Regions from separate parts of the Homo sapiens genome. Here regions 1, 3 and 4 are each linked to region 2. Evidence: fine-mapped expression QTL. A gene starts in region 2. Each other region holds a variant in brackets. All regions are shown on one strand. Distances are from middle to middle.

Region 1 (7,698 bases), 32 kb after region 2:
AAAAAAAAAAAAAAAAAAGATGAGGCAGGTGGACCACGAGGTTAGGGGTTTGAGACCAGCCTGGCCAACATGGTGAAACTCCGTCTCTACTAAAGATACAAAAAATTAGCCGGGCATGGTGCTACATGCCTGTAATCCCAGCTACTCGGGAGGCTAAGGCAGGAGAATAGCTTGAACCTGGAAGGCAGAGGTTGCGGTGAGCCAAGATCGCGCCACTGCACTCCAGCCTGGTCAACAGGGCGAGACTCTCTCAAAAAAAAAAAAAAAGACAAGGAAAAAAAAAAAAGACAAGGTGGGGCCACAAGGCAATCCATAGCTAAGACACTCGGCAGCCAGAACTCTACTCCCCATCAGTATTTACAGCGTTAATATGCACTGTATCCAGTTAAATCTCAATTATTCACCAGAAAACTGAAGTTTAACCCTTTTACTTCTAAGCCAGGCACTGGTCTATCAGTGTATATAAAAAATGAAAACCTGGGTAACTTTCTAACTTGTAACCTACTTCCTCCACACTATTCCAGTATATAGAATCATGATAACATTCATATCCCAAGACTGTCATTTTGATTGTTTCCAAAATTTTGCTATTAGGATGTAGCCATAAAAAAACCTTGTTAAATCTTATACCCTTGTTAAATCTTATCTCTGTTGCCCAAAAGATTCTTTGGGCAGCCAGGAGCAGTGGCTCACGCCTGTAATCCCAACACTTTGGGAGGCTGAGGCAGGCAGATCACGAAGTCAGGAGTTCGAGACCAGCCTGGCCAACATGGTGAAACCCCATCTCTACTAAAAACACAAAAATTAGCTGGGCGTGGTGGTGCACACTGTAATCCCAGCTACTGGGGAGGCTGAGGCAGGGGAATGGCTTGAACCCAGGAGGCGGAGGTTGCAGTGAGCCAAGATCACGCCACTGCACTCCAGCCTGGGCGACAGAGCAAGACTCCGTCTCAAAAAAAAAAAAAAAGAAATAAAAGATTATTTGGGCCAGGCATGGTGCCTCATACCTAGAATCTCCACACTTTAGGAGGCTTAGAAGGGTGGATCACTTGAGCCCAGGACTTTACAACAAGCTTGGGCAACATGGCAAAACCCCATCTCTATAAAAAATACAAAAAAAATTAGCCAGGTGGCACACACCTGTAGTCCTGTCTATCCGGGAGGCTGAGGTGGAAGGACTGATTGAGCCTGGGAGGTTGAGGCTGCAGTGAGCCATGATCATGCCACTGCACTCCATCTTGGGCAACAGACTGAGACCCTGTCTCAAAAAGAAAATAAAGGCCAGGCACGGTGGCTCCCCTCTGTAATCCCAGCACTTTGGGAGGCCAAGGTGGGCAGATCATGAAGTCAGGAGATCGAGACCATCCTGGCCAACATGCTAAAACTCCGTCTCTACTAAAATACAAAAAATCAGCCAGGCGTGATGGTGCGTACCTGTAGTCCCAGTTATTGGGGAGGCTGAGGCAGGGGAATCGCTTGAACCTGGGAGGCGGAGATTGCAGTGCGCTGAGATCGCGCCACTGCACTCCAGCCTGGCAACAGAGCGAGACGCCGTCTCAAAATAAATAAATAAATTAAATTAAATAAAAAAGATTATTTTGCCAGGCACGGTGCCTCACACCTGTAATCCCAGCACTTTGGGAGGCCAAGGTGGATGGATCACAAGGTCAGGAGTTGGAGACCATCCTGGCCACCGTAGTGAAACCTCGTCTCTACTAATACAAAAAATTAGCCGGGCATGGTGGTGCGTGCCTGTAGTCCCACTACTCAGGAGGCTAAGGCAGGGGAATCACTTGAACCCGGGAGACAAAGATTGCAGTAAGCCAAGATCGCGCCACTGCACTCCAGCCTGGCGACAGAGCAAGACTCTGTCTCAGGAAAAAAAAAAAAAAAAAAGATTCTTTTAACTATAGGACTGCTAAACCAAGGAGCATGCAAGGTCAAGGATTTTGTTACATAATGTCACACTGCTTTCCAGAAAGCTTCTTCTTTTCTTATTTGTTTTTTGTTTTTTAAGAGATAGTGTCTCACTATGTTGCCCAGGCTGTTCTCAAGCATTTCTCCCACCTCAGCCTCCCAGAGTGCTGGGATGACAGGAGTGAGCCACCGTGCCAGGCCCAGAAAGCAATTTCTTGCTGTGAAGGGCAAAAGAGGTAGATGTAAACAAACACACTCACACCCCTTTCAGTTGATTCTAAAGCCCCTGCAAGTTCAGTCTTCTCTTATTTTGGACATCTTGTTATACCAACTTCCCAAAATCCCTGTGGAGAGACTCCTCACCTGCACTGGACACCTTCCTTCAACGTGCAGTCGCTGTTGCAGCAGGTGTCGTTGTTCAGATACATGATGCCAGGATCACACTCTTCTCCTTCATCCACCCTCGAGTTCCCACAAACTTTATTGCTGCGTTCTTGAAAACACTCCTGGGCCTTACTTTCAATGGTCTTATAGATTGATTGTTTACTGCAGTTTGAAAACATCTTGAGAGAAAAAAGGCAATAAGGACCCAAAATAATATCATAAAAATGTATTCCCATGCAATGTTTGTGTCTTCTCTAGAGACAAACTCTTAATGTAAAACCACCATCAGAGCCACCCTGGAGTTATGGCAAGGCCACCACAGTCTCCTCCAAAGGCCACTGATATGGAACTGGGAACCTCCCTCCATAGAATGCTAAATGGCTGATGTGAACTTGGTTAAGGATCTATAATTCTTCTTACGAAGGTAAGCAAGCTATACAAATACTGAGACCAAACATCCCAGTCAAAGCCCACTTAAGGACAAGCAGAATAGCACAACAGAGAGCTCGTAGCTCCATCAGACTTGAAATCTCCTCACCTCAGGCATGCCACTCATGCAGTGACAAGAATTAAGAACCTCTGTAGGTTAATGTTGTCCCAGACAAAACAATTCAGAAATGCAGGAGAAGGGGTTTCTTCTCCTTCTTTGGCTACTTATATGGATGATCCAAGTTTAAAGTTGTTTAAATATTTGAGCTTAGTAATAGGCATAATAGTACATTTTATATAAATTAAATCCCCAATTGTTACCTAAACATTTTCATCAACCAGCAAGACCAGTGTCTCAAAAAGTCTCTACACTACCTTCCCACCCTGGAGTACAGAACCACTAGGATAACTCCCTTTTAAGGCTGAGGGTTTTATCAGGAGCTCTAAAACTGCGGTCATTTTCCAGACCTCCTGAAGTTATCAAAAAAAGAAGAGGCTTAGGGAAAACTGAGCATAGTTACTTCTTAGGTCGGGGTCTCCAAAGTGCTCTGCAGATGCCAAAATGGCTTCACTTTCACCCCAGACAACAATCATGAAGCCCCTGAGAGCCAAGTGTATGAGACCCTCCAAAGGTGCCTGTAACCACCAAATCAGACACCAAAGGAGCTACTTTCAGAAAGATAGCAAAGACCTCATCTTACACAGAAATACTAACTGGCTTTTTAAAAAACATCTTCAAATCT[GT/G]TTTTTTTTTTTTTTTTTTTTTTTTTTAGATGGAGTCTTGCTCTGTCACCAGGCTGGACTACAGAGGCACAATCTTGGCTTATTGTAACCTCCGCCTCCCGGGTTCAAGTGATTCTTCTGCCTCAGCCTCCTGAGTAGCTAGGACTACAGGTGCATGCCACCACGCCCAGCTAATTTTTGTATTTTTTGTAGAAACAGGGTTTCACCATGTTGACCAGGATGGTCTCGATCTCTTGACCTCATGATCTGCCCACCTCGGTCTCCAAAGTGCTGGGATTACAGGCGTGAGCCACCGCGCCCGGCCCAAATCTGTCGTTACAGTACAGATGTCTAAGGGGTCTGGTTATTCTAATCGGGGCCTCAGGCAGTTGTCATTTTGGTGGGTTTATTCATCAACATCATGTATCTCTGGGTTCCATTTTATCAGGTTAAAATGGAGTTAAAATTCACAGTGAACAGATAAGAAGACCTCTTCACTGATTTGTCAGAGTTACAACTCCCAAGCAGCTGGAGAGCACTAACGATAAAAGGACCAACCCGCAACTCTGGCTTTCTGCCTACACATCCCTGAAGATCTGGCAGCTTCTGTTTGCATCCTTGTCATAAGACTTCCTCTTCCGTTCAGCAAACCTTCCTAAGAAGTTACAATCTCAAAGGTCCTACATTCCTTTTCACTAATGTCATCTGTCCACAGAGAAGTCCACCTGTGGCAAACTGCTCTTCATAGGCTTGCCTAGTAGAGGGTGATGGGTTCTGTCTTTCTAGGTCAAGGAACTACTTTATTTTTGTCCTGTAAGCCCTTTTCATCAGTTAAAAATATTTTTATTAAGGAATTCATTTAAAACATAGGCTGGGCACAGCAGCTCATGCCTGTAATCCCAGCACTTTGAGAGGTCGAGGCAGGTGGATCACCTGAGGTCAGGAGTTTGTTGACCAGTCAGTTGACCAACCTGGCCAACATGGTGAAACCCCATCCTACTAAAACTACAAAAATTGGCCAGGTGTGGTGGCATGCACCTGTAACCCCAGCTACTCAGGAGGCTAAGGCAGGAGAATCGCTTGAACCTGGGAGGTGGAGGTTGCAGTGAGCAGAGATCACACCACTGCACTCCAGCCTGGGCGACAGAGTGAGACTCCACTCAAAAAATCATAATAAATAATAATAAATAAATAAAACATAGAAGATGCACATTATCTTCTTACAAGGGGACTCCTACTTGGGCAACCAAACTAGAAAAACACAGACTAAATATGATGTGCTCAGGACAAAATAAATAAATTGTTCTTCATTGATACAGACTGGCAGCTCCAGAAAAAAAAAGTTCTTCCCAGGCCCCATTCTCATTAGCAAGTTCTTTTTTTTCTTTTTCCTTTTTTTGAGATAAAGTCTCACTCTGTCATCCAGGCTGGAGTGTAGTAGCACAACCTTGGCTCACTGCCGCCTTGAACTCCCCGGGTTCCTCCTACCTTAGCCTCCTGAGTAGCTGGGACTACAAGCATGTGCTTCTATGCCCAGCTAATTTTTGTATTTTCTGTAGAGATGGAGTTTCACATGTTGTCCAGGCTGATCCTGAACTCCTAGGCTCAAGTGATCTGCCCACCTCGGCCTCTCAAAGTGCTGGGATTACAGGTGTGAGCCACCATGCCTCACTGGCAAGTTCTTACAGGGCTGTTTTGAAGAGCCCCAGAACTGGCAGCAGGAAGAGTCAGCAGCATGCATGTCCACCCAGGCAGTCTGCAAAGTAAAACATTTTGCTCCCAAGTTCTGACACTATCCTCATAACCAAGAAGCATATGACCTATTACTTAGAGAAACAGTATGCAATATGGTAGCCACCAACCATATGTGGCTACTTAAATTTTGTTCCTAGTCACATATTTTACAGTTTCTATTACAGAAATATTCAAGCATCTATGAAGTAGACAGGATGGTATCATGAATGCCCCCGTGCCCCTCACCAGCTTCAACAATAATCAACTTATGACTTCACAGCTCCTCTACATCCGCGCTACTTTTCCTCTGCTCCCACACTGCTGTTTTTGTTTGTTGGCTTATTAACAACTTTATTAAGACATATTTCACATATCACAAAATTGATCCATTTCAAGTATATAACTCAGTGATTTCTAATAACTTTACCAAGTGTTGAAACCATTGCTATAAGTCAATTTTAGGACATTTCCATCCTTCCAGTAATCTCACTCATGTCCTTTTACAGTTAATGCCCATTCCCGTCTCCCATCACAGGCAAACATTATTAAAAATTTAAATAAAATAGAATTTACAATTCAGTTCCTCAGTTTCTAGCCACATTTCAATTGCTCCACTGGGCTAGTGGCTACTATACTGGGCAGAGCAGACACAAAACATCCCCCGCCCCGCAGCAGAAAGTTCTATTGGGCAGCACTGAACTATAGTGAACATGATTAGAAATGCAGAGACTATGAAAAGAGAAGGAAAATTCAACAGTTTGACAGGTTGGAAGAGTAGACAAAAAGGGGTAGAAAAATGTTTCTCTGGCACAAGTTGTCAAGCAGAGGAAAAATAAAACATAACATGCAAAGTAACAGAGGAACTGTTTACACATAACAGCCAAAGAAAATGAGATGCAGAAAATATACATAAAAAGCCAAAAAAAAATGAGATGCAACAATCAAAGATCACAAAAAGAACAGGAGGCAGAAATTTCAGAAAGCAGGGTGTCAGAGCCAGGGAAAAGCAGAAGTAATCTTGCCCTCTGTGTCCAGGGAAGGCTTGCACATTAGCCCACAGCCAAGCTCAAAATAGGAGTCAGGACAAATACTTCACAATCTTTTGTGATTAGAATCAGACTCCTTTAAGCTCTCCCCACCGACCCTCTTTAACTCAGCAGTGCAACTATTGTTTTCCTCACACTGCTTTATGCTGTTTAACTTCAAATAAAATGAAAGAACCAGATATTTATTAACACAACTTTTAGTTCAGACTCTAAGAGTTAGTCACGGCACTCTTAAAGTCTCTGAAAGTGTTTTACAGTATCACAAATCAACTAGTATTCTCTATCAGAAACCCCCAATAGTAAATGATTCCATTAATTATTCAACAAATATTTGTTACATGCCAGATACTCCTACTAGGCACTGGAGATAGAGCTATGAATAAGATAGAGCTATGAATAAGACAGACAAGGAAGGGCCTTTCTCCCATGAGGCTTGTAGTCAGGCAAACTATGTGTTTAACTGCAAAAGTTAATAAAAACGTGTAAACTGTACATGTAAATTGTAGAGTTAAAATGAATGACAACTTGTAAATGAAATGACAAATTTTTAACATAAAGCCTGAGCCCACCAGACCCTGAAATCCAGAACTCCAAAAAAAGCCATTATTATTAGTAATTTTTCCTAGAGCTCAAATCTACACCATTAAGCTTGACAACAAAGTCCAAATGATAGTTTTAACCAGATTTAGATGAACCGTGCTTCACCCCAAAACACACAACCACGTTTCAAGGTACTTTGTAATTTGCACATCCATCCCTAGGGAAACGCCTAGGAATGGAATACGTTTCTGAGCTCTCATTATGATCATTATACACAGCCTCTTTCCAAACCACATAAAAAATTCTCGACACACACATACCTTATTGTTCTCGTGATCGCCACTCACAGCTATGGGATACATGACATATTTCCCTCCCTGGTCCTCATTCGGGGCACATTCTGCTAGACCATCCGGATCATGTTCTGCTCCAAAATTATGTCCCAATTCATGAGTTGTAACCAGGTCAGCTTCCTTAAGGATCATGCAAAGAAAACATTATTTCTCAATATCCAGCCATCACCTACTTCTGCCAGTTGGGCCTATGCTGTCTTAAATAGAGCCTTATAATCAGATCAACAAGAGAATAAGAACTGCATGCTTATAATACCAGCACTTTAGGAGGCTGAGATGGGAGGATTACTTTACTCTAGGAGTTTGAGGCCAGCCTGGGTAACACAGGGAGACCCTATCTCTACAAAAATAATAAAAAATATTAACCAGGTGGGCTAGGCATGGTGGCTCACGCCTGTAATCCCAGCACTTTGGGAGGCTGAGGCAGGTGGATCACGAGGTCAGGAGTTCGAGACCAGCCTGGCCAACATGGTGAAACCCTGTCTCTACTAAAAATACAAAAATTAGCTGGGCATGGAGGCACGCGCCTGTAATCTCAACTACTCGGGAGGCTGAGGCAGGAGAACTGCTTG
Region 2 (7,698 bases):
TTTACTAGCTGTGAGGCTTTAAGCAAATCACTTAACTTCTGTGTCTTGTTTTCTTCACATGTAAAAGGGGATCCTTACTAAAATTATAGGTTAAGATAATGTATATAAACCACCTAGCATGATGCCTGCTGAATAGATCATTCTTGAATAAAGCTGTGTATTTTCCCTGTTTTATAAACTTAATAAGCTGTATCAAGGCAAATAAGAAGCTTGTCTCAAAAGTAAATACAGGCTGGGCATGGTGACTCCTGCCTGTAATCCCAACACTTTGGGAGGCCAAGGCAGGTGGATCACTTGAGGCTAGGAGTTCAAGACCAGCCTGGCCAACATGGTGAAACCCTGACTCTACTAAAAATACAAAAATTAGCTGGCTGTGGTGGTGCACACCTGTAATCCCAGCTACTAGGGAGGCTGAGGCAGGAGAATCACTTGAATCCGGGAGGCGGAGGTTGTAGTGAGCCAAGATTGTGCCACTGCGCTCCAGCCTGGGCCACAGAGCAAGACTCCATCTCAAAAAAAAAAAGAAAAAAAGTAAATACAGTATTCTGCTTTAGAACTAGGACCTATCTTCAGTTTTATTTTTTCCTCAAATATATAAAGCCGGGCATTTTCACTAATCCTGCATTTCTGCTTATTTTCAGGGACATATTTGGAGAAGACTGTGTAAGTGTAAAGGATGACTCTATTCTTAGCGTCACAGTGGACGGGAAAACTGCCAACCTTAACTTGGAGACACGGGTATGTAGCTGCTCTTTCCTACGTTTCAAGACATTTGGGAAATAAAGTGAAGGCATAAATAATCTGTGCTCTCACACTCAACAGTCTACTGTTGCATATTGGCATTTGCTTCCAGTGTTTCCAACATTTTTTTCACATTGTTCTTTTTATATTATTATGGTTGAAGTTTTCCGTGTTTTTCCGGGTTACTGCATAGTACAAGGTTCGCGTGTATGCCACTCCATTGCTGTCCTCTTCCATAATACAGCTTAGTTCACCTCATCCCTTCTCTAGTTTGGCATCTAGTTGACTCTCCATTTTTTAAAGAAGCCGCTCTTCTGTTTGCACCAGCAAGATCCAAGTGGATTTTCCAAACAGTTCAAAACCAGCCCGGGCAACACAGTTAAACCCCATCTCTACTAAAAAATACAAAAAAAATTAGCCGGGAATGGCGGCAGCTGCCTGTAGTCCCAGCTACTCAGGAGGCTGAGGCAGGAGAATTGCTTGAAACAGGGAGGCAGAGGTTGCAGTGAGCCAAGATCACATTACTGCACTCCAGCCTGGATGATAGAGCGAGACTCTGTCTCCAAAAAAAAAAAAAAAAAGAACTAGAGGCCAGGCGTGGTGGTTCACGCCTGTAATCCCAACACTTTGGGAGGTCAAGGTGGGTGGATCATCTGAGGTCAAGAGTTTGAGACCAGCCTGGCCAACATGATGAAACCCCATCTCTACTAAAAATACAAAAATTACCCAGGCGTGGTGGTGTGCCTGTAATCCCAGCTACTTGGGAGGCTAAGGCAGGAGAACCCAGGAATCACCTTAACCCAAGAGACAGAGGTTGCAGTGAGCTGAGATCACATCACTGCACTCCAGCCTGGGCGACAGAGCGAGATTCTGTCTCAAAAAAAAAAAAAAAAAGAAGCAACTAGAAGATTATTAGTGAGTTTCAGTCAAATTCAGTACCAAATGTTGAGTAGATAGCCACATCCATTCCTTGCCAAGTAATTTGTGTGGCATAGATGAACTTCCCTGGAGTATCATTTACTAGATCAAACTGTGGGCTTTGATGTAAATGTAGTTTACTAGACTTTCCCCAGTCTTTCACCCCAGCCTCAAGTCATCACTAATTAGGACCGTGCTGCTGTCAGGAAGCACTGCACGCCCACAAGTGTGTAGGGCGGCCGTTCTGTTTCATGGTAATCAGTCCCACCATGACCTCTGCACACACAGATGATTGTTCTTTTTTTTAGTTTGAGACCCGGTCTCGCAGTGCCGCCCAGGCTGGAGTGCAGTGGTGCAGTCACAGCTCACTGCAGCCTCAACCTTCCCGGCTCAGTGATCCTCCCACCTCAGACTCTTATCTGGGACCACAGGCACACGCCACCACAGCTGGCTAATTTTTTATGAGATGATGGTTTTTTTAAAGAGTATTCATTTATCTTCTATATAATCATTATAGACTTAATTCTAACAGTCTTGTTTGTGCCTCACTTTCAGACTGTAGAATGTGAAGAGGGAAGTGAAGACGATGAATCCCTCCGAGAAATGGTGGAGCTGGCTGCACAGAGACTGTACGAGGCCCTGACGCCAGTTCACTGAGACTGTGCCTGTATATGAACTTTGAAAAAATACTTGACTCTACTTTTGTTACCTAAAATAAAATGCATTCGTTTCTCTGGGGGAGCCTGTTTACTTTTAATGTCAAATGGCCTTTATTTCAACAGCCTGAATACTGCTAAATTGCTAATTAATTTGTCCATTATTCTAGAACTAACTACTAGATCAACTGCCCATTATTTTAGAATTTTGGATTCTTCTTCCAGGCATGTATGTGCAGCTCCCATTGAAACCATCAAGATCTGCCGATAGCAACCGCTGCTGGTTACCCTCTCCTCTGGGGTAACCAATTTGAGTTAATAATAAGGATTCTAAGTTGCACTTGAATCTTTTCTGTCTTCATCTCCACTGCTGCTGTTCGAGTCCAAGTCTACTCTCCCCTCTGAATTCCTGCAACCACCTCCATCTCCTCCCCTATAGCTGATTCCTGGAACAGACCTGGCCTCAAGCCTCTGCTGCTTGAAGGCCTTAATGAAGTCCTTGTGATAAAGATGAAGTCCAGGCACCTTTGCTTGCTCTAGCAGGGGCTCTCAATCTGGGCTACCCGTGGGAATCACGTGGGGTGCATCACAAGTGCACCTGTGCCCAAGTCCTGCCACCAGGAGGTGAGTTAGTCCGGCTGGAATGAGGGCCCTAGGTTGGATCTTAGTTGTAAAGCTCCCCCAGGTGATCCAAGCGAGCTTGGGACGAGCAACCTAAAGAAAGTCATGCTCTACGCCCATCGCCCCGCCCCAGGGAGCGGGGTCGGCCTCTGCGCCGGCGCCCCTGGCCCTTCTGTTACTCATCTACAGCTCCGTGATTTCAAGGCATCCTTCCCACCCGTTCGTTTTTAGCTCGGCTGCCGAACTTCATTGCACAGTTGAGGTAAGAACGTTGCATTACAACCACGTTTTAACAGGTGAATCCCTTGGAAGTTAGTCAGTGCTCCGTGTCCGCGGGGTTCTGCATCTGCGCATCCACCCCACGGCGGGAAAAAGAAAAGCGGCCGGCTGCGCGCGCACTGAAGGTGCAGCTGCTTTCCCTTGTCATTCGCAGAACCACGAGGTACTGCCAGGGTTTCCGCAGTGCCTGCGTCCTCGTGGGTGTTACAGGCCCTCCAGAGTGACGCTGGGCGCAGGAGGCCGCGCGCGCATCCCACGACCTCTTCCAGGGGGGCCTGGAGCAGCCCTCCGCCCCACCGAGAGCCAGCTGTGCTTCCCGCCGCGCGTCCTGAGGTCACACTCCTGCCCTTTGCCGAACGCACCTGCGCCCGCGGAGCGCGGGGTGGGCTTAGAAGGGCCCCCAACCGCTTTTCTTCCGGGAACCACGCAGCGGGACGCGGGCTCCGGACTCCCTGGGGGCAGCCTTGCTGTGGGTGAGCAAGCGCGGAGGCCGAGCTTCTTGCAAACGGACTCCAAGGGGCAACGACCTTCGCGCGTCACCAAAGTGACTGCGTGGGTGCCCACGAGCCCGGCTCCCGCAACCCACGGGCGGCCACTGCGCAGGCGCCTCTCGTGGCTGGCGGCCCCGCCCCGCCCCGCCCGGCTGCTCCATGGCGCTGTGCGAGGCCGCGGGCTGCGGGAGTGCCCTGCTCTGGCCTCGCTTGTTGCTCTTCGGGGACTCCATCACCCAGGTACGGCCGCCCCGACGCTCGGCCTCCCGCCCCGGCCTCCCTGCGGGGTCGCTGCCGAGCAGGCCGAGGCTCCTCGCCGTCCTCTTCGGCGCCCGAGACGGCTGGGCCGGAGGCCTGGCCACGCCCGTGGAGACACCGGAGGAGTGGCGGGTCCCCCAGTGGCTGCGCCTTCCGGGCCCGCGGCGTCCCGGAGGTCACGACGGCGTCCGCGAGAGCCCGGGCTCCAGGCACAGACGCGAGGGGACCCGGCCGCGCTGCCCGCCCCGCGCCGCCTCCCACCCGGGTCGAGATGCGCGGTCTTCCCCTCAGCGCCCTCCTGGGCAGCGGCCTTTCCCCTCCGGGTCCGGGTTAGCGGCCGCGGGCGACCGCGCGCTGTGTCCCAGGAGGCCCCGCGGCCAGCTCCGGGCAGAGGCGCCAGGAGCTCTCTCGCCCCATTCCCTGCGGGCACAGGTGGGGCCGTTAGGGGTTGACCTTGGAAGTAAAACGCCTTCAGGAATTAGGTAGAAAAGGACCATCCGTTCATCCAAGATCATCTCACCTCCCATGAAGGGAACGGTCTTCTAAATGCAGGTTCTTACTTCGGGGAGGGAGTAGAAATTCCATTCCTGTGTGTGTCCTCTTCTCAGACAGGACTTGCTTCACCAGGCTTTTGTGTATACGCCAGTAACTGGTAACATTATGTTTAGGCATATGGGGCAGTCAGAGCTGCCGAATTCCATGGGAATGTGTATGAAAAAGTGTTCACCCTCAGCTCGGTAACCAGCAAAGCAGTGAGGCGGTGTGGCCTTCATTTCCTCACTGACCTTTGACTTTATTTCCTGAACTTAGATTTCTGTTTAGCTTTTTTTTTTTTTTCTTTTTTTCTTTTTTTGAGACGGAGTCTCGCTCTGTCGCCCAGACTGGAGTGCAGTAGCGCGATCTCGGCTCACTGCAAGCTCCGCCTCCCGGATTCAAGCGTTTCTCCTGCCTCAGCCTCCCGAGTAGCTGGGATTATAGACGTGCGCCACCACACCGGGCTAATTTTTGTAATTTTAGTAGAGACGGGGTTTCGCCATGTTGACCAGGCTGGTCTCGAACTCGAGACCTCATGTGATCCGCCCGCCTTGGCCTCCCAAAGTGCTGGGAATACAGGCTGTTTAGCTTTTGATAGAGAAAAATCCCCCTCTGCTAAAGTGCTGCCAGGTGTACTTACCTGTAATCCCCAAAATGACCTCCTGGAGTGAAGCAATCAAAGCCAAGAAGGGAGCGCCGAGAAAACAGAAGTTGCCAATCAGAACTGCCCTCGCTGAGATGCCCGGTTACAGTCATTAGTAGTAATAATGGGCTTTTCTTCCTCCAGTTTTCCTTCCAGCAGGGTGGATGGGGAGCATCGCTGGCTGACAGGCTGGTCAGGTGAGAATGGTTTCCGATACTTGAGTTCTTATGGATGGAAAATGTCTTAGGGATCCGTCTTATGGATGAAGGATAGTTCTGAACAGAACATTCCTCCTTTATTAATTTTGCTTGCCTCCCCTAATCAGTATATAGGAGAAGGAACAGAAAACATTTACTCTTCACTCAGTCTGACCAATTAGATATTTTAGGGTTGAGCACTGATGGCTGGGTAGACTCAGACAAATCAAGGAAATGGCCAAGGCCTCTTCCCTAGTCAGGGGCAGACAGATCCAAGTCCAGCTGCTATGACTGCAGAACTTGCAGTTTCACTGCTACACCACACTGGTAGGAAGCTACTTTGCCTTTTTTTGAAGTGCTGCCATGACTTAAGACTCACCTTGTCACAATTCTACCGCACTTTGTTTTGGTTTTTGGTGGTTTTTGTTTTGCGACAGGGTCTCTTGTTAGGCGCGTCCACGTGAAGAGACCACCAAACAGGCTTTGTGTGAGCAACAAGGCTGTTTATTCACTTGGGTGCAAGTGGGCTGAGTCTGAAAAGAGCAAAGGGAGATGGGTAGGGCAGTACTATAGGATTTGGGTAGGTAGTGGAAAATTACAGTTAAAGGTGGTTATCTATTGTTAGCAGGGGAAGGGGGTCACAAGGTGCTCTGTGGGGAGCTCCTGAGACTCATTGTCCAGGGGAGGAATGCCACAAGGTCGATTGATTAGTTAGGGTGGGGCAGGAACAAATCACAATGGTGGAATGTCATCAGTTAAGGCAGGAACTGGCTGTTTCACTCCTTTTGTGGTTCTTCAGTTGCTCCAGGCCACCTGGATGTATACGTGCAGGTAACAGGTTATGACGGCTTAGCTTGGGCTCAGAGGCCTGACAACTCTGTCACACAGGCTTGAGTGCAGCAGTGTGATCAGGGCTCACTGCAGCCTCCACCTCTGGGGCTGAAGGCATCATCACCTCAGCCTCCTGAGTAGCTGGGACCAACAGGCACTCGCTACCACACCCAGCCCAGCACTTCATTAAAGTATTGTGATTTCACTCTGTAAAATGGCTAGTCGCATTTTATAATCATTACACACACAAACAATCTCTTAGAAATAAGGCTGAGTTTCGGTGGTGGTTCTGCAGTTTATAAATGCCACCTGAGAACTTTGAGCAGTGTCAGAAAGTGTCCCCTTGTGCTGCTTTGGAGCCGCTGCCTGACGCTGTGGCCTGCAGTTCTCCGCGGGTGCCCCAGCTTCTCTGCTTGGTTATGCATGTATGGGAATGTGAATACAGCAAAATGAACCATATTGATTTACTAATCATAAGTTGAACCCCAGGCGTCATTTTAAGAAAACTTTATGGACAACTTTAAATATCTACAGAAGCAAAGAGTGAAATGAGCCCATCCATCCCTCCTATGGATTATTCTGAAGCAAATCCCAAATCATATCATTTTACCAAGACTAAGAAAAAAAGAGTCCCTCTTATGTGACTGGTATTCTCTGAGGGGTTTCAAACCTACTGCCTGATGCGAATCCTTAACTGGGATTCTCCTCACTTTACATGTGAGGAAGGAGCACAGCGTGCCCAGGGTCACGCCTAGTCACACAGGGAGCCGAGAAACAAATCCAGGCAACCCGGCTTTTTTTTTTTTTTCCCCCATTACACCTACAGTACTGTGAATCCAACTGTTTTTAAGAAGGAAACAAAAAGTATTAACCGGTTTAAGTTGAAACACAACGAATGTATTTACTAAAACTATTTAATCAAAACCAGAAATCTCAAATATTCTATAGACTGTTTAAATATAAACCAAACTAAACTATTTAAGTTCCAGGATATTAGTGACTTTTTACCTGAGATACTTGCTCAGATTATCTATCTGTTGTGAACTCCATTTTAAAAGCACCTCACTATACCATGCTTGAAGTCAGGTAGTCTGTAGACTTCATCACAGCCCCTTTATATATAATTACTTCTCTCACGGAGGAGTATGGTGTATTTACCTGTATCTTTGAATGGCTTAAGATTAGCATGCTTCAGCTATGTTCTTGCTCCTATCAAAGTGAAACCTGGGGGTGGCTCAGAGACACGTGACGGGTTTAGAATCCCAGAGAGCACACCCTCACTAAAGGCCGGTTACTGCGACCATAAACACTTCTTGCCCACAATTCATCTTTTTAAAATTTTTCGTTTCAGAAAATGTGATGTTCTGAATCGTGGATTTTCAGGTTACAATACCAGGTGGGCCAAAATTATCCTTCCAAGATTAATCAGGAAAGGAAACAGTTTGGACATCCCAGTAGCAGTTACAATTTTCTTTGGGGCCAATGACAGTGCACTAAAAGGTAAAAGCATTTTTGATGTTCTTCTAGCT
Region 3 (7,698 bases), 24 kb before region 2:
CGGTGAGCCAAGATTATGCCACTGCACTCCAACCTGGGCAACAGAGCAAGACTCTCTTTAAATAAAGAAATATATAAAGTAATAAAATGTTCCATTTGGTTCTGAAATATTTTATTAGGATAGGTACAGTGGCTCACGCCTATAATCCTAGCATTTTGGGAGGCCAAGATGGGCAGATCACTTGAGCCCAGGAGTTCAAGACCACCTTGGGCAATATGTGAGACCGTGTCTCTACAAAAAATACAAATATTAGCCGGGCATGGTGGCGTGTGCCTGTAGTCCCAGCTACGTGGGAGGCTGAGGCAGGAGGATTGCTTGATCCCTGGAGGTTGAGGCTGCAGTGAGCCATGATCACATCACTGGACTCCAGCCTGCGCAACAGAGTGAGACCCTGTCTCCAAAAATATATCAATATATGAGGTAGGCCAGGCACAGTGGCTCAAGCCTGTAATCCCAGCACTTTGGGAGGCCAAGGTGGGTGTCAAGAGTTCGAGACCAGCCTGACCAACATGGTAAAACCCCGTCTCTACTAAAAATACAAAAAATTAGCCAGGCATAGTGGCGTGTACCTATAGTGCCAGCTACTCGGGAGGCTCAGGCAGGAGAATCGCTTGAACTCAGGAGGTAGAGGCTGCAGTGAGCTGAGATCACACCACTGCTACCCTCCAGCCTGGGCGACAGAGCAAGACTCCATCTCACAAAAAGAGAAAAAAGAGAACCATGGGTGTTTTCTAAGACAGTAGGGTAGCAATAGTTTTGTACAAGAGTCATAGGCATTTAAAACTAGAAGAGACTACAGAAGTCAGCCCTTTACAACTGTGAACATAGAAGCAGTGAAACATGGAAAAGGCGTGTATCTCATTAGTGGCAAAGACTGGAGTAGAAAAGAAGTTTCTTTACTCTTTGTTCAAATAGTACCACATAAGGATCAAACAGAATGAATATGTGTATACAAGTTGAATCGGCTGGAGGTCCTTAAAAGTAGTAAAGTTTCATAACTTCCAAGTATGTCTCTATTTCATATATTAAATATATTTCATATATTTAATTCAACTTAAGGACCATGATTAAGCTGAATGATGTTTCCATATATTCTTTTAACATTTATTCTATGTAGATTTTAGTCCATGGAGAACAGAATGAAATGGCCAGATTGAAAGCAGCACTGATTCGAGAATATGAAGATAACGATGAAGTTCACATAGAGGTTCATAATCCTCGGAATACAGAAGCAGTGACCTTAAACTTCAGAGGAGAAAAACTAGCCAAGGTAAAAGGTTATGGTTCCTGTCTGTCCAATCCATGTTTTTTCTTCAGGAAAGACTGTACTTCTTAAGAAAATAGATCTTTAGTCAAAAGAATATGCTTATTTCTGTCTACTTGTTACACTACAGGAATTTTATCCTTATCCTTTTTGGCTTCTTTTGGTTCTGTGCATTCATTTCTTCAGGTGGAAAATGTTCAGCTAGATTAGATTTTTTGTGTGTGTGTGTGTGAGACGGAGTCTCGCTCTGTCACCAGGCTGGAGTGCAATGGTGCGATCTCGGCTCACTGCAACCTCCGCCTCCTGGGTTCCAGCGATTCTCCTGCCTCAGCCTCCTGAGTAGCTGGGATTACAGGTGCGCGCCACCACGCCCAGCTAATGTTTGCATCTTTAGTAGAGATGGGGTTTCACCACGTTGGCCAGGATGGTCTTGATCTCTTGACCACGTGATCCACCCACCTCCGCCTCCCAAAGTGCTGGGATTACAGGCGTGAGCCACCGTGCCCGGCCTAGATTAGATCTTAATGCAGCTGAATCTCATAGCTCTTTAATCCATATCCCCACTTGCTTTTCCTACCCACATCTGAGGGTAAAGAACTGTTTGTTACTGTTTGTTACTGTAGCCAGTATAGCCTTGTGTCCACCTCTTGTCATTCTCCCTGAGAATCTGAAGATAGGCTCATATCTCTAAACATATATGTTTGTGTAGATATGATGGAATATATGAAACATTTTCTCTTTAAAAATTAATCGGCCGGACACGGTGGTTCCTGCCTATAATCCCAGCACTTTGGGAGGCCAAGGTGTGTGGATCACTTGAGGTCAGGAGTTGGAGACCAACCTGGCCAACATGGTAAAACCCCGGCTCTACCAAAAATAAAAATAAAATAAAAAAATTAGCTGGGTGTGGTCGCAGGTGCCTGTAATCCCAGCTACTTGGGAGGTTGAGGCGGGAGAATCCCTTGAACCCAGGAGGTGGAGGTTGTAGTGAGCTGAGATCGAACCTGAGAGATGGAGGTTGCGGTGAGCTGCGATCGCGCCAATGCACTCCAGCCTGAGTGACAGAGTGAGACTGTGTCTCAAAACAAACAAACAAACAAAAAAGAAGTAATCAAGGCTGGGCACGGTGGCTCACTCCTGTAATCCCAGGACTTTGGGAGGCCAAGTCAGGCGAATCGCTTTAGCTCAGGAGTTCAAGACCAGGCTCGGCAACGTGGTGAAACCCAGTCTCTACGAAAAATACAAAAATTAGCTGGGTGCAGTGGCATGCTCCTGTAGTCCCAACTACCTGGGAGGCTGAGGTGGGAGGATGGCTTGAGCTCCAGAGGTTGAGGCTACAGTGAGCCATTGTCCTGTCACGGCACTCCAGCCTGGGTGACAGAGCAAGACCTTGTCTCAAAAAAATAAAAAAAGAATTAATCATTTTTGAGAGTGAAATGTAACATTTTCAGAATTTAAAGTTGAAATAGTTAAGGAAAGCCTGAGCTGGCTTTTTAGAGGGATGCTGTCAGAAGTCTGCATCTTTACTTCTGTTGATCACAACTCGTTTAGAAATACTTCTAAGAGAAACTTTTTAAAAATTACATATATAATTTTAAATTTTTAAAAAGGAATTGAAATCATTATGTTGAAGAGATATGTGCAACTCCCATGTTCTGTTTTTTTGTTTTGAGATGGGGTCACACTCTGTTGCCGAGGCTGGAGTGCAGTGGTGCATTCATGACTTACTGCAGCCTCGACCTCCCTAGGCTCAGCTGATCCTCCCCTCTCAGCCTCCCAAGTAGCTAGGACTACAGGCACAAATTTTTTTTTTTTTTTTTTTTTTTAGAAGGAGTCTTGCTCTGTCGCCCAGGCTGGAGTGCAATGGTGCCATCTCGGCTCACTGCAACCTCCGCCTCCCAGGTTCATGGAATTCTCCTACCTCAGCCTCCTGATTAGCTGGGATCACAGGTGCCCACCACCACGCCCGGCTAATTTTTTTTGTATTTTTAGTAGAGACAGTGTTTCACCACATTGGCCAGGCTGGTCTCGAACTCCTGACCTCAAATGATCCACGTGCCTTGGCCTCCCAAAGTGCTGGGATTACAGGCGTGACCCACCGTGCCCAGTCTGAGGCTCAAACTTTTAATGATTTAGTTGAAGGTTTAAGTATCAACATATGGGCCAGGTGCTGTGGCTCACGCCCATAATCCCAGGACTTTGGGAGGCTGAGGCGGACAAATCATCTGAGATCAGGAGTTCGAGACCAGCCTGGCCAACATGGAGAAACCCTGTCTCTACTAAAGATACGAAAATTAGCCAGTCGTGGTTGTGCGCAACTGCAGTCCCAGCCACTCGGGAGGCTGAGGCAGGAGAATCGCTTGAACCTGGGAGGCGGAGGTTGCAGTGAGCCGAGATCATGCCACTGCACTCCAGCCTGAGCAACAGAGCAAGACTCCGTCTTAAAAAAGCAACTTTACGACACACTTTTAATACATAATGAGCCAAACCTGCAGACGCTAATGAATATCCTTTCTTGAAGGTGAATTGGAGGAAAAAAAGAAATTAGCAAAACTTAGGGTATGAGGTTTTTGTTGTAAATAGTCGTAGTTACTCCTGAGTCTTACTGTCCACAAAACTTTTCAGGGGCCGATTTAATAGTATTTTTCTTATACCTGTAGAAAAATATACTCAGTTGAGAATCTAGAACTGTATTTCACATACTCTGCTGGTGGTGGATATGTGGGGAGAAAAAAAAAGTTTTGCAGTCAGACAGTTTAGAAGATGAATTGAACTGAGTTCAGGAAAAGTTGGGTTTCTTATC[G/A]GAGTGTTCTGTTTCTCACCCATAATTTTAATGATTTAAAATCATTACCTTTAGTTATTTTTCTCTCTCAAGTACATCACTGTATTAAAATTAGTCTCCTAGGAGCAAAGGTTCTTTTCTGAAAGCTACCTACAATTAAGGAGAAAATAACCCTAGGAAATACTGTGAAATACAACCCTCTGTGTTTATAATTATGAGAACAAATATAGCACTGCCTGGTTGCTGTTTGCCCTTACTTGCTTAAAGGCAAACAAGTATGGAACACACTACCTTTATTCCTTTGAGCTCATTTATTTGCAGTTGAGAGAAGTTATATTTAAGAATACTGGGTTTCAGCCAGGCTTGGTGGCTCTCGCCTGTAATCCCAGCACCTTGGGAGGCCATAGCAGGCAGATCCCTTAAGCTCAGGAATTGAAGATCAGCATGGGCAACATAGTGAAACTCCATCTCTACAAAAAATACAAAAATAAGCCAGGCATGGTGGCGCACATGGTGAGCGATGATCGCACCACTGCATTCCAGCCTGGGTGACAGAGCAAGACTGTCTCAGAAAAATAAATAAATGAAACTTTTTTTTTTTTTTTTTTTGAGAAAAAGTCTCGCTCTGTCTCCAGGCTGGAGTGCAGTGGCGCGATCTCAGCTCACTGCAAGCTCCGCCTCCCAGGTTCACGCCATTCTCCTGCCTCAGCCTCCCGAGTAGCTGGGACTACAGGCGCCCGCCACCACGGCCAGCTAGTTTTTTGTATTTTTAGTAGAGACGGGGTTTCATTATATTGGCCAGGATGGTCTCAATCTCGTGACCTCATGATCCGCCTGCCTTGGCCTCCCAAAATGCTGGGATTATGGGCGTGAGCCACCATGCCCGGCCATAAATGAAACTTTTTAAAAATGAATAGTGGGGCTGGGTGTCATGGCTCACGCATGTAATTCCAACACTTTGGGAGGCCGAGGTGGGCAGATCATCTGAGGTCAGGAGTTCAAGACCAGCCTGGCCAATGTGGTGAAGCCCCATTTCTACTAAAAATAGAAAAATTAGCCGGGCATGGTGGTAGGTGCCTGTAATCCCAGCTACTTGGGAGGCTGAGGTGGGAGAATCGCTTGAACCCGGGAGGCAGAGGTTGCAGTGAGCTGAGATTGTGCCATTGCACTCCAGCCTGGCGACAGTGAGACACTGTCTCAAAAAAAAAAAAAAAAAAGAATAGTGGGTTTCACGTTTGTAGTATTTTTGTTTTTAAATGGTTGTTATTTTATTCTCTTAAAAATGTTTCTCCCTCAATGTATGAGCTCACCCATAACCTGTTTTTATTGACCTTTTTATTCAAAGCCGCTGCTGCTGCTTTTAGTGTTAGGTGTACCACAGCCTCCCAGGTTTGTATCAGTGGGCCTCACTCTCTGTTATGAGTTTGCAGCCAGCCTGAGGGAGTGCATGTGTGCGTTTCACGGGGACTTCCCGGCCTTCCCTACTGCAGTGCAGCTAGTGAGAGCTTTCTTAAGCCCCGGCACCTAGTAAGTTACTTGCTTGTTGAACTGATTAGAACTGAACTGTGCCAGATCTGCCACTGTGACTCTTCCCTTTGACATTGGTAGCAATGCAACTGCCCTCATCATAGAGATATCAAACATTTTATGTTTTTCGTGGTTAAATCCATATGTTGTTTTCATAGTTCAAAGGTGTTATGGTCTTCATTATGATGAACTGCATTTTATTACCTGAAAAACTGCATTTTACCAGGTTCTATTTTCTTCAAGTATTTTTTTTTTACAGGTTATGGGATTTTTAGCAGACAAAAAACCAGAACAAGGCCAGCGGGTCTCAGGAATACTTGTTAAAAGAAACTTTAATTATCACATACTTTCTCCTTGCGACCTGTCCAGTAAGTATACTATTAAATGTCAAATCCAACTTCACCTTAGCACTGAAAGAAAATCTATGAAAACTTCTCTTCACCTTGTGGCCTAATGTTATGTAATAGACAAATAATAAAAAAGGAATGAGGCAAGTTAGCTAATTAGCTTTGTGGGGAGAGAAAAACACCTCCCATGAACTACTGAAAGATTGAAATTATTGGTGAAATCACTTTCTTCATCTTTGGAAACATAAGTTCATTTCTGAGTTCACCTTGTTTTCTACCCTCTACAACAGACTTGTGGGCTTTTATTTTCTGAAGTGACTTTGGATTCCCCAGAGAAGCCGTTTGGTTTTTATGACCTTTGCATAAGCATTTCAGTTTTTTATGACCTTTACATCACTTGCAGGGCCTTTGTATTCCTTCACCATTCCAAAAGGAGTAGGAACAAAAACTTGTATAATTTCTTTAAAAGCAAAAAAGTATTAATGTAAAGCCTAATTTTTTCATTACATTGAAACTTTCAACATCCAAATAAGTAACACCAACTATATAACTGATGCCTCTAATGTGTGTGTATACATTGAAGCTCATTATAGAGAAAAATGAAAAATTGGGCAGGGTGCAGTAGCTCACGCCTGTAATCCCAGCACTTTGAGAAGCCGAGGCAGGTGGATCACGAGGTCAAGAGATCGAGACCATCCTGACCAACATGGTGAATCCCCGTCTCTACTAAAAATACAAAAATTAGCTGTATGTGGTGGCACGTGCCTGTGGTCCCAGCTACTCAGGAGGCTGAGGCAGGAGAATTGCTTGAAAGTGGGAGGTGGAGGTTGCAGTGAGCTGAGATAATGCCACTGCATTCCAGCCTAGTGACACAGCAAGACTCCATCTCAAAAAAAAGGAAAAATTGCACAAAACTAATAAGATTACATTTAAGTTTGTAAATTGCTTTTTTCCCATAGTTGATACACATTTCCATATGCATTCTTTGTCTTTATAAATTTACTGAGCCATCAATAAGTCATTTTCCAATGAATATGGTATTATTTTCGAGTAAATACTATGCTCAAGGTGATTTACATGGTACTAATACATTATATGTGCTTTATGCAGGAATAAAAAATAGCAGTGGCCCGGCACGGTGGCTCACGCCTGTAATCCCAGCACTTTGGGAGGTCGAGGTGGGCAGATCACAAGGTCAGGAGTTCGAGACCATCCTGGCCAACGTGGTAAAACCCCATCTCTACTAAAAATACAAAAATTAGCTGGGTGTGGTGGCATGTGCCTGTAGTCCCAGCTACTTGGGAGGCTGTGGCAAGAGAGTTGCTTGAATGCAGGAGGCAGAGGTTACAGTGAGCCGAGATCACGCCATTGCACTCCAACCCGGGCAACAGTGCGAGACTCTGTCTCAAAAAAGAAAGAAAGAAATAGCAGCAGTGGTGAGGTATTTACCTGTGAGATTGCCCTGCTGTCAGTTTTCATAGCATCATAGGTCACTGTCTGACTTGTGCCTTCATTCTGAGTTAGTGAGCTCTTATACTCTTTTTTTTTTTTTTTTTTTTTGAGATGGAGTCTCACTCTGTCTCCCAGGCTGGAGTGCAGTGGCGTGCCGTCTCTGCTTACTGCAAGCTCCACCTCCCGGGTTCATGCCATTCTCCTGCCTCAGCCTCCCAAGTAGCTGGGACTACAGGCGCCTGCCACCATGCCCGGCTAATTTTTTGTATTTTTAGTAGAGACGGGGTTTCACCGTGTTAGCCAGGATGGTCTCGATCTCCTGACCT
Region 4 (7,698 bases), 270 kb after region 2:
AGCTTGACAAGGCACCTGGCATGTGACAAGGCCTCAGTGTAAAACAGTTGTTCTCATCACATCCCTCAGCAGGTCGGACGATGGTGGGGGTGGCCAGTCCAGGGGCTGTGGGCTCCCTTTCTGGGTGGGCAGGCTGAGAGGGGTCATCTGCAGGGATCCGGCTTTGTTGAGGGTTGCCTGGGAACCATGAACTTCCTGCAGGAAGAACTCTTCTCCTGGGGCAGGCTGCTGTAGGAGGGGTCCTCTGGCACCGGGACAGGAACTGAAGCCGGTCTTGATCTGCTCAGGGACTCAGCAGAGATGCAGCCCCAAGCCACCCGGCTACTGGTCTAGTGGGGGAGGTGTTCACCACCAGGTCCTTTGCCCCATGATTCTCTGCCCGACGGAGGATTGGCCCCAGTCCAAGCCTTGCCCTGTACTTATGACCATTTTAAACACATCTGCAGATGCTGTCATATTCAATAAAATATATCCTTGGAAAGGCAATGTGAAATTTATAGTGGCTTTTCATTCTTGCACATTTTCTCAATTACGGATACTAAAAGCCTAATCATGATCATGTGAGGCTTTGTAATAAAATGGTTTCATAAAATGTTAAGAAAGTGTCTGAAGAATGTTGGAAGCCTGTCCCACTGGAGGGTGACCCCTCTGCAATCCCGGCAGGAGGCTGTGCAAGCTGGAGTCCACACCTGCCACAGGAGCTCCCGCCTCCAGGGGAGCCTGTCTACAGGCAGCTCTGATTTTTGGAAAGCCGACAGCTATGCTGCCTGTGACCCTGCCTGCGACCCTGCCTTCCTGTCACCGCACCTCACAGTCCTGTTATCCCTCCTGGAGCACCTGAGAACAAAGGTCTGTCTTTTCCCCACCACAGTCCTCCCCATCCCCCTCTTCTGCCGACTTCTATCTTCAAGGTCACTCCCTGGGCCACCTCAGTGGGGCCTTTAGCCCAGCTCAGCCCCTTCTGCAGGCAGCACCATTGGCGCTGGTGGCTGCCCTGACTCTTGGTCCCCTGTGAGTGTCCTGTCTATTTTGCAGCAGGAGGGGAAAGGGTCCAAGGAGAAAGCCAACAGGTGTCCTCATGAATCCAGAAATGTCTCTCCCTTCCCACCACCTTAGAGAAGTGGTGCCTCCCCCTGTTACCGCCATCCCCTTTCCTCCCCACACCCACTGTGTGAAGAAGCACAGTGCCATGGAAAGGCCTAGAACTGGGAATCAGGGCACATTGGGTGTGCATTCCTTTTGGACCACTCACTAGCTTTGCAACCCTGGCAACTTCCTTGTCCTCTGACTTCAGTTTCTTCATCCAAAAATGAGATTGGCAATTTCACCTCCCAGGGCTTTTATAAGGATTAGGTGCATGGTACTTAGTAGGTGCTTTGTAAATATTAGATAAGCCTTGATCTCCTGGGCTCAAGCAATCCTCCCACCTCAGCCTCCAGAGTAGCTGGGACTATAGCTGCACACCATCACACCCACCTAATTTAAAAATTTTTTTATAGTGACAGAGTCTCGTTCAAGTGATCCTGCCACCTTGGCCTTCCAAAGTGTTGAGATTACAGGCATGAGCCGAAATTCTTGAACAGGGGCCACAGGATCATATTACAACTTCATAATATTTACCTGGAGAGAATTAAGCTGATAAGTGAATATAACAGGTGTGAATTTCATCTTTTCCCTGGCCAGAGCACCTGAAGAAGAAAACAATGATCCCAATCACCTTTACTGAAGCAAATCCTATCCTCTGGTTCTATCTTCACCTGGGGGCCTCTAACATCCTTCGAAGATGCTTCGCCGCAATTCCTTCCAGAAGTCTGCAGATGCTTGCCTGTGCTTGGCCATGCTGGAGTGACCACGTGGATCACGTCCCGGCTCTTCTTCTAGGGGCTCAGGACCGCTGGGGGTGGGGGTAGGGCAGTGAGAAATTGGAGGCTGATGCATTACCTATGGACCCATAGTGAGTACCCCAAAACCTAGCAGCTTACAACAGCTTTATGATCTTACACAATTTCTGAGGGTCGGAAGCCCAGCTTAGCTGGTACCTCTGGCTCGGACTCTCCTGCGAGGCTGCAGTCAAGTCGTTGGCTAGATCTGCATCATTGAAATCCCGGAAGGCCGGAGGATCCATTTCTAAGATGGGGAACTCCCATGGCTGGTGGCTGGTGTCCTCAGTTCCAGGATGGCTGTTGGCTAGGGCCCCCAAGGACCCCCAGCCACCTCCAGACTCCACATAGGTGTCTCCAGGGCAGTTGACTCCCCAGAGTAAGTGATTTGGTAATGAGCAAGTGACAGTGCCACTAAAACAGAAGCTGCTGTGTCCTTTATAACCTAACCTCAGAAGTGACATCCCATCACTGTGGCTGTATTTACTGAGTTGAGTCCACACTCCAAGAGCAGGCTGTGAGGGCCGGGAAATGGGATCACTGGGCGCCCCCCTGGAGCATAGAATCCAAGCAGAGAGGCCTGGCCACTCTTAAGTGACATTTCCCTCAGTCTGGGCAGCCCAAGGAGTTGTCGTCTACTCTGAGTGGGGGTGGGAGAGCCATCTGCTCCCAAGCTTTTCCTGGGGCAGTGCCAGATAATCCAGGCAACCCCCCTTTTCTATAAAGTTTTTCCTGGTGGCCATTACATTCCTCTTCTTTGATCTAGACATCGCCCTACTGTTGCCTTTACCATGAGCTTTCCAAACAAACAACCTCAAATTAATAATAAGCACAGCTCTCGTACTAATTACCATTTTAGTCCTAGGCCTAGTCCTAAGTCCTTGGTGTGGAACTCTCACCTGGGGAGGCTCAGCCAGTTATCCAAAGGACCCGTCCTCATGTTAACCTGCCCCCCCTGATCTCAGGGGTTCTGGAAGGCAGAGTGTTCCTCCTGTGACCCACAAGGCAAACCTCCTGTCATGGCATCAGGACCAGGCTACACAGTTTGGGAGGCCCAGTGCCAAATGAAATGTGTGGCCCCTTGTTCAAAAATTATTAGGAATTTTGGCAGGGCTCAGTGGCTCATGCCTGTAATCTCAGTGCTTTGGGAGGCTAAGGTGGGAGGATCACTTGAGTCCAGGAGTTTGAGACCAGCCTGGGCGATGTAGTGAGTGAGACTCCATTTCAACAAAAAATTTAAAAATTAGCTGGGTGTGTTGGCATGTACCTGTAGTCCCAGCTACTTGGGAGGCTGAGGAGGGAGGGTTACTTGAGCTGGGGAGGTGGAGGCTGCAGTGAGCCATGATTGCACCACTGCACTCCAGCCTGGGCGACGGAAAGACCCCATCTCAAAAAATAAAAAAAATTTTTTTAACATGATGACAACATTAAACTAATTACAGGAGCCTTGGAAGTGCGGGGCTCTGTACAACTCTGCAGGTCACATGGGCATGAAGCTGGCCCTGCACAGCACAGAATGCAGCAGGTCTGTTGGAGTGAAAGGTGTCACAGTGGGTTTGTGTCTCTATCCCAGGGCCTGGCACTGGGATGTCCCCCCGCTTGGCCAAGGCTGCTCATGCCCCCAGCCCTGGGGAAGATGTGGCTGATGGTCACAGCATCTTCAGAGACCCCTCCCCTACCCCCAGAGAGTCAATTCACTTCACTTCATGGGTCACGGGATTCTGAAATGTTTATGAAGCTGCCTGTTAGTTCTTACTTAGTTTTAAACGTGGCCCCTT[A/C]TTCTACAACTCAGACAGAAGTCACATCAGGCTTGAGGATAAACCCTGCCTACTTAATTTCAATTCTCACAGACTCCTCAGCTTTTCAGAAATATATTTTATGTATGTATGTATGTATGTATGTACGGAGACAGGGTCTCACTTTGTTGCCAGCTGGAGTGCAGTGTGATCACAGCTCACTGCAACCTTGAATTCTTGGGCTTAAGTGATCCTCTCGCCTCAGGTTCCCAAAGTGCTGGGATTAAGGGCATGAGCCACTGTCTTTCAACATATAGTAGCTGGTTTATTTCATAATTGCTATGTTTTGAATGTGTCCCCCAGAAGTTAGGGCTTTAGAAACCTAATCCCTTTGCCCTCTTGAATGGATTAATGGATTCATGAGGGCTTTGCCTTTATGAATGGATCAATGTCACTATCATAGGAGTAGGTTCATTATCACAGGAGTGATTTTGTTATAAAATGGAGCTCTCTGGCTATCTTGCTCTTGCTCTGTCACCATGTCCTTTGCTGGGATGCATCGTCATGCAGCACAAAGGCCCTCGCCAAGGGCTGGTGCCATGTTCTTGGACTTCCTAGCCTCCAGAACGGTGAGCTAAATAACCTTTCTTTAAAAAAACAAATTACCCAGTCTGTGATATTCTGTTGTAGCAACAGAATACAGATTAAGACAGTAATTCTATGTATTATTTTATTTGATTCATTATTGGCAGCCACCAAACTACCAAAGGGGTCCATGGCACAAAAAGGATAAGACTGTCAGGAAGAGATGACCTGGCAAATGCAGATGTGGAAAAGGAATAGGCTTGGAGCAAATGCAAGGTTTAATCGCTCTTTCAGGGTTGTATGCTCCCTGCCCCTACTAATTTAGTAAATGGCTTTGTCACGGGTGTGTTATTGTTTGCTTTTCTTTATGGCATCCCTCATGTCTGGGCTAAGCAGGTGACTAAGCACTTGGGGCTTGATGGGCTGAAGATGGGGCATCCCCAGGCTCTCTGTTCTTGGAGAAACAGCTGCAGAGTGTTCCTTGAATATGTGTCAGGATCTAATTTTACTAGGAGGAAAAAAACCCTGTGAAACTATAGATGCGAATGTGAAAGAACAGAGGGGAGGTTATCTGCCTTGGGCCTTCCCTTCTCGTCCTAGTCATTTGTTGAGCATTTACATGCATTGCCCCCATTTAATTCTCGTAGAGCGTGGGAAGTAGTTTTCTATTCCTACTTAACAGAAGAGGAAATGTTACAGGAGGTATTTCAAGACTTACTCCAGGTAAAGCTGTTTGCAAATGACAGAGCTAGAGCTTGGTGGTCCCAAAGCCTGTGTCATGCTGTTCTCACTGCCTCTGTGCCCAGCCTATGTAGGGCAGGGAGAAGAACACCAGGGTGGCATTAGGCAACTCATGGGTGTCTGGAGAATCAAACAAGGCAATATATACCTGATGAAAGGAGCCTCAGAAATTCAAAGCAAGTGATTGCTTTCATCTAGGATGGTCCAAGAAGTCTTTCTTGAGCTGGATCATAACAGATTCAGACATGGAGAGGTGGAGAGAAAGCTGTGGGGCTGATCGTGGGGGGTAGGGGCAGCAAGGGGATGGGTAAGGACAGATCAGAGGAGGTGGAGGGGATCAGTAAGAGAGGGGGCTGGTGGCCTGGGATGGATGAACGCGAGCTTGATTGCCAAGTTGAGCAGTTTATACTTATTTCAGTAGGATATTGGGGAGCCACCAAAGTTTCTTCAGAGGGGAAGCTGTACAATAAAGCTTCACTTTAAGAAATGAATTGGGAGTTAGGGGGTGGCAGGCCTGGAGACTGGGAAACTGGTTAGGAAGTTATTGCAACTGCTTGGGTGAGAAATGCTGAGGACCTGAAATAAGGTGATGGAGGGGAGACAGGAAGGTCAGCAGGAGCTGGACGCCTGATTGCATGGCAGGGCACGGGTGGCTGGGAGGACCCAGCGGGGCATGTGGACAAGAGAGAAGTCACGGGAGGCTGAGAGGACCAGCTATATGGCTTTTAGCATTGGAGTGGCCACGGGGAGTTTTAGCTAATTCATCCTGCAGGTTCCCATAGGTTCTGCAAGGGAAGCCCAACTGGCCTGTGATAGATACCTGTCTGGAGCCCAAGCTCTCCAAGCTGTCTCCTGGTTTCCAGGAGAGATCAGCCCTTGCCCCAGGCCTGCTACATTGGCTTTCGCTTTTCCCAGTTTAGCCCCAGAAGTGGTGGGAGCAGATGCTTTGACCACAAACTAGAGCCATGAAGCCAGTTGTGGTGGCATGGAATGAACTGGGGAAGTATTGCACCTGTTCATGGAACAGGTGGGATGAATGAACTGAGGAACTGGCCTCAGACCCGGGGAAGTATTGCACCTGTTCATGGAAGATGATCAAAGAAGCGGCAGGTGCATTTTCTTCCTCCTTTGCAAATGGCCAATCGCCCTGAGTTTTCCATGAAAGAAAGGGCCACGGACAGTAATGGTGCAGCTCTCAGACTCTGGACCCCAACTATTAGAGTTGGGCCCAAATCCCAGCTCTGCAGGTACTTGCTGTGAGACTTTGGGCAAGTTACTTAATCTCTCTGTCCATCAGTTGCTTCATCTGTAAAATGGGGATAATACTGGTACGCACCTCCATGGACTACGGAGGATAAGTGAGTTAAAACACAGAATGCTAATCGTGCCTGGTATGTAGTTGGTGCTTAATAAATAAATGTTGAATGAATTAGTTTTTTAGAATGAAACATCCCAAGGAGAAAAATCAGAGGTGATTTTTTTTTTCTCTTTTGCATGTGAAATGGAAAAATCTAGATAAGAAAGTGCCTAGCTTTGTTCTGGCCATATCACAATAGTCCATTTGAGTTGGGGGAGAGGGGAGTTACTGGAGGGAGTACCCTAAAAACTCACAAAAAATGATTTCCTTTCTCTGCTTGTTGAAATTCTCCCTTCAAGGCCCAGTTTAAGTGTCACCTCCTCAGAGCAGCCCTCCTTGGTTTCCACCCTTCCTCACCCCTGTCAGACTCGTGGCTTCCTCCTCTATTCTCCCCAGTGTTCAGCATGTAGGTTGATGGTAGCACTCACTAATTCTGCTTTGTTTTACCTGTACTCAAGTTCATGGCTGTCTCCTCTCTGTGGTGGAGCTTTGGGTTGGACGGGTCTGGGAAGTCCCACCTACAGCTGACAGGCTGGGCTGGGCTCCAGGCCATCACAGGTCCCCCATCAGCAGCTCTCTCAACCCTGGCCTTGTGCCTACAGACCAAATGTGGCCAATGCGTTGAATTAGCAGCACTTTCAGGATCAAATCACAAAGCAACTCCTTCCTCTGTCCTGATTTAGTCAGGGGAATCACCTCTTCTCGGCCACTGCTGCAAACTCAGGCAATCCTATTACGTTTCTGGTTGCTCTTAGTTAATAAAAACTGTCTCACTGCAGGAAGGTTAAATGTCCCGTCCTGAATTTGAGTGAAAATGAAGTCTTCTTGCCTCTGCTGTCTTGAGCTTGCTGCAGGTAGGAAGCCTGCAGCTGGGAAGGGGCTTAGCTTTTCCCTCCTTCCTCACCCAGCTCACTGTCCGCATGCTACTCAGACATCCCCGCATCTGACCCAGCAGACCGCTCCTGCTCCTGCTCCTGCAAGTGTCTCCCCTGGCTCCTGTGAGGCCCACTGGCCTGGTGTCCGCTCTTTCTGAGGCTGTGACATTGGAGCTGTCTCTTTGGCTCTTCTCCGTCCACACTCTGTCCCTGGAGAGCTGCACCCCAGCAACATTCCCGTCTCTCCCTTCAACCCAGATACTCCCTGAGCTCCAGACTGTAGTTTCCAATGTTGTTTTCCAGTGTTCAACCTGACAGCGGCCGTTGGCTCCAAGGCTTCCTGAACTCAGTAACTGCCCCACTTAATTGCTGAGATGAGAAACCCCTGGTGGTGCTTGTTTTCTCTCTTTCGCTCCAAATCCATGCACAATCTAGCCCTGAGTTCTGCAGGCTCTGCAGCAGTGGTTCTCAGCCCAGAGGGACCGTGGCCCCCAGGGCACATTTGGCAATGTCTGGAGACATGT

Alleles and levels. Positions count from the first base shown, and alleles are read on the strand shown. Sizes are in standard deviations (SD) of each study's normalised expression. Not every link is listed here.
As copies of GT replace G in region 1, the expression in lymphoblastoid cells of the gene that starts at base 3,850 in region 2 goes up (large effect, 1.2 SD a copy in TwinsUK).
As copies of C replace A in region 4, the expression in fibroblasts of the gene that starts at base 3,850 in region 2 goes down (small effect, 0.39 SD a copy in GTEx).

What was found. PIP is the estimated chance that this variant, and not a neighbour inherited with it, causes the effect.
Region 1: its variant is the best candidate, but not a certain one, in a credible set for the expression of IAH1 in lymphoblastoid cells (TwinsUK, PIP 0.83).
Region 3: its variant is the best candidate, but not a certain one, in a credible set for the expression of IAH1 in iPS cells (PhLiPS, PIP 0.63).
Region 4: its variant is the best candidate, but not a certain one, in a credible set for the expression of IAH1 in fibroblasts (GTEx, PIP 0.78).

The regions. Positions count from the first base shown.
Region 1 is chr2:9,502,886-9,510,583 of GRCh38, forward strand. ADAM17 (ADAM metallopeptidase domain 17) reads right to left here. Exons shown (of 19, transcript NM_003183.6): 11 at 7,094-7,246; 12 at 2,281-2,480. It also overlaps a transcript of IAH1 not described here. Among named protein-coding and RNA genes, the nearest start is that of IAH1, 32 kb to the left of the region's middle. The variant GT/G (reference allele first, on the strand shown) is at 3,474.
Region 2 is chr2:9,470,702-9,478,399 of GRCh38, forward strand. IAH1 (isoamyl acetate hydrolyzing esterase 1 (putative)) reads left to right here and starts at 3,850. Exons shown (of 6, transcript NM_001039613.3): 1 at 3,850-3,946; 2 at 5,286-5,338; 3 at 7,521-7,669. The coding sequence starts at 3,866. It overlaps CPSF3 (cleavage and polyadenylation specific factor 3), which reads left to right. Exons shown (of 18, transcript NM_016207.4): 17 at 642-738; 18 at 2,215-2,400. The coding sequence ends at 2,316. RefSeq lists a silencer at 3,622-4,391 and enhancers at 3,661-4,428, 4,909-5,469.
Region 3 is chr2:9,447,081-9,454,778 of GRCh38, forward strand. CPSF3 (cleavage and polyadenylation specific factor 3) reads left to right here. Exons shown (of 18, transcript NM_016207.4): 11 at 1,118-1,270; 12 at 5,833-5,941. Among named protein-coding and RNA genes, the nearest start is that of IAH1, 24 kb to the right of the region's middle. The variant G/A (reference allele first, on the strand shown) is at 4,068.
Region 4 is chr2:9,744,122-9,751,819 of GRCh38, forward strand. No RefSeq gene overlaps it. Among named protein-coding and RNA genes, the nearest start is that of TAF1B, 96 kb to the right of the region's middle. RefSeq lists enhancers at 4,677-4,756, 6,604-6,683, 6,984-7,053. The variant A/C (reference allele first, on the strand shown) is at 3,659.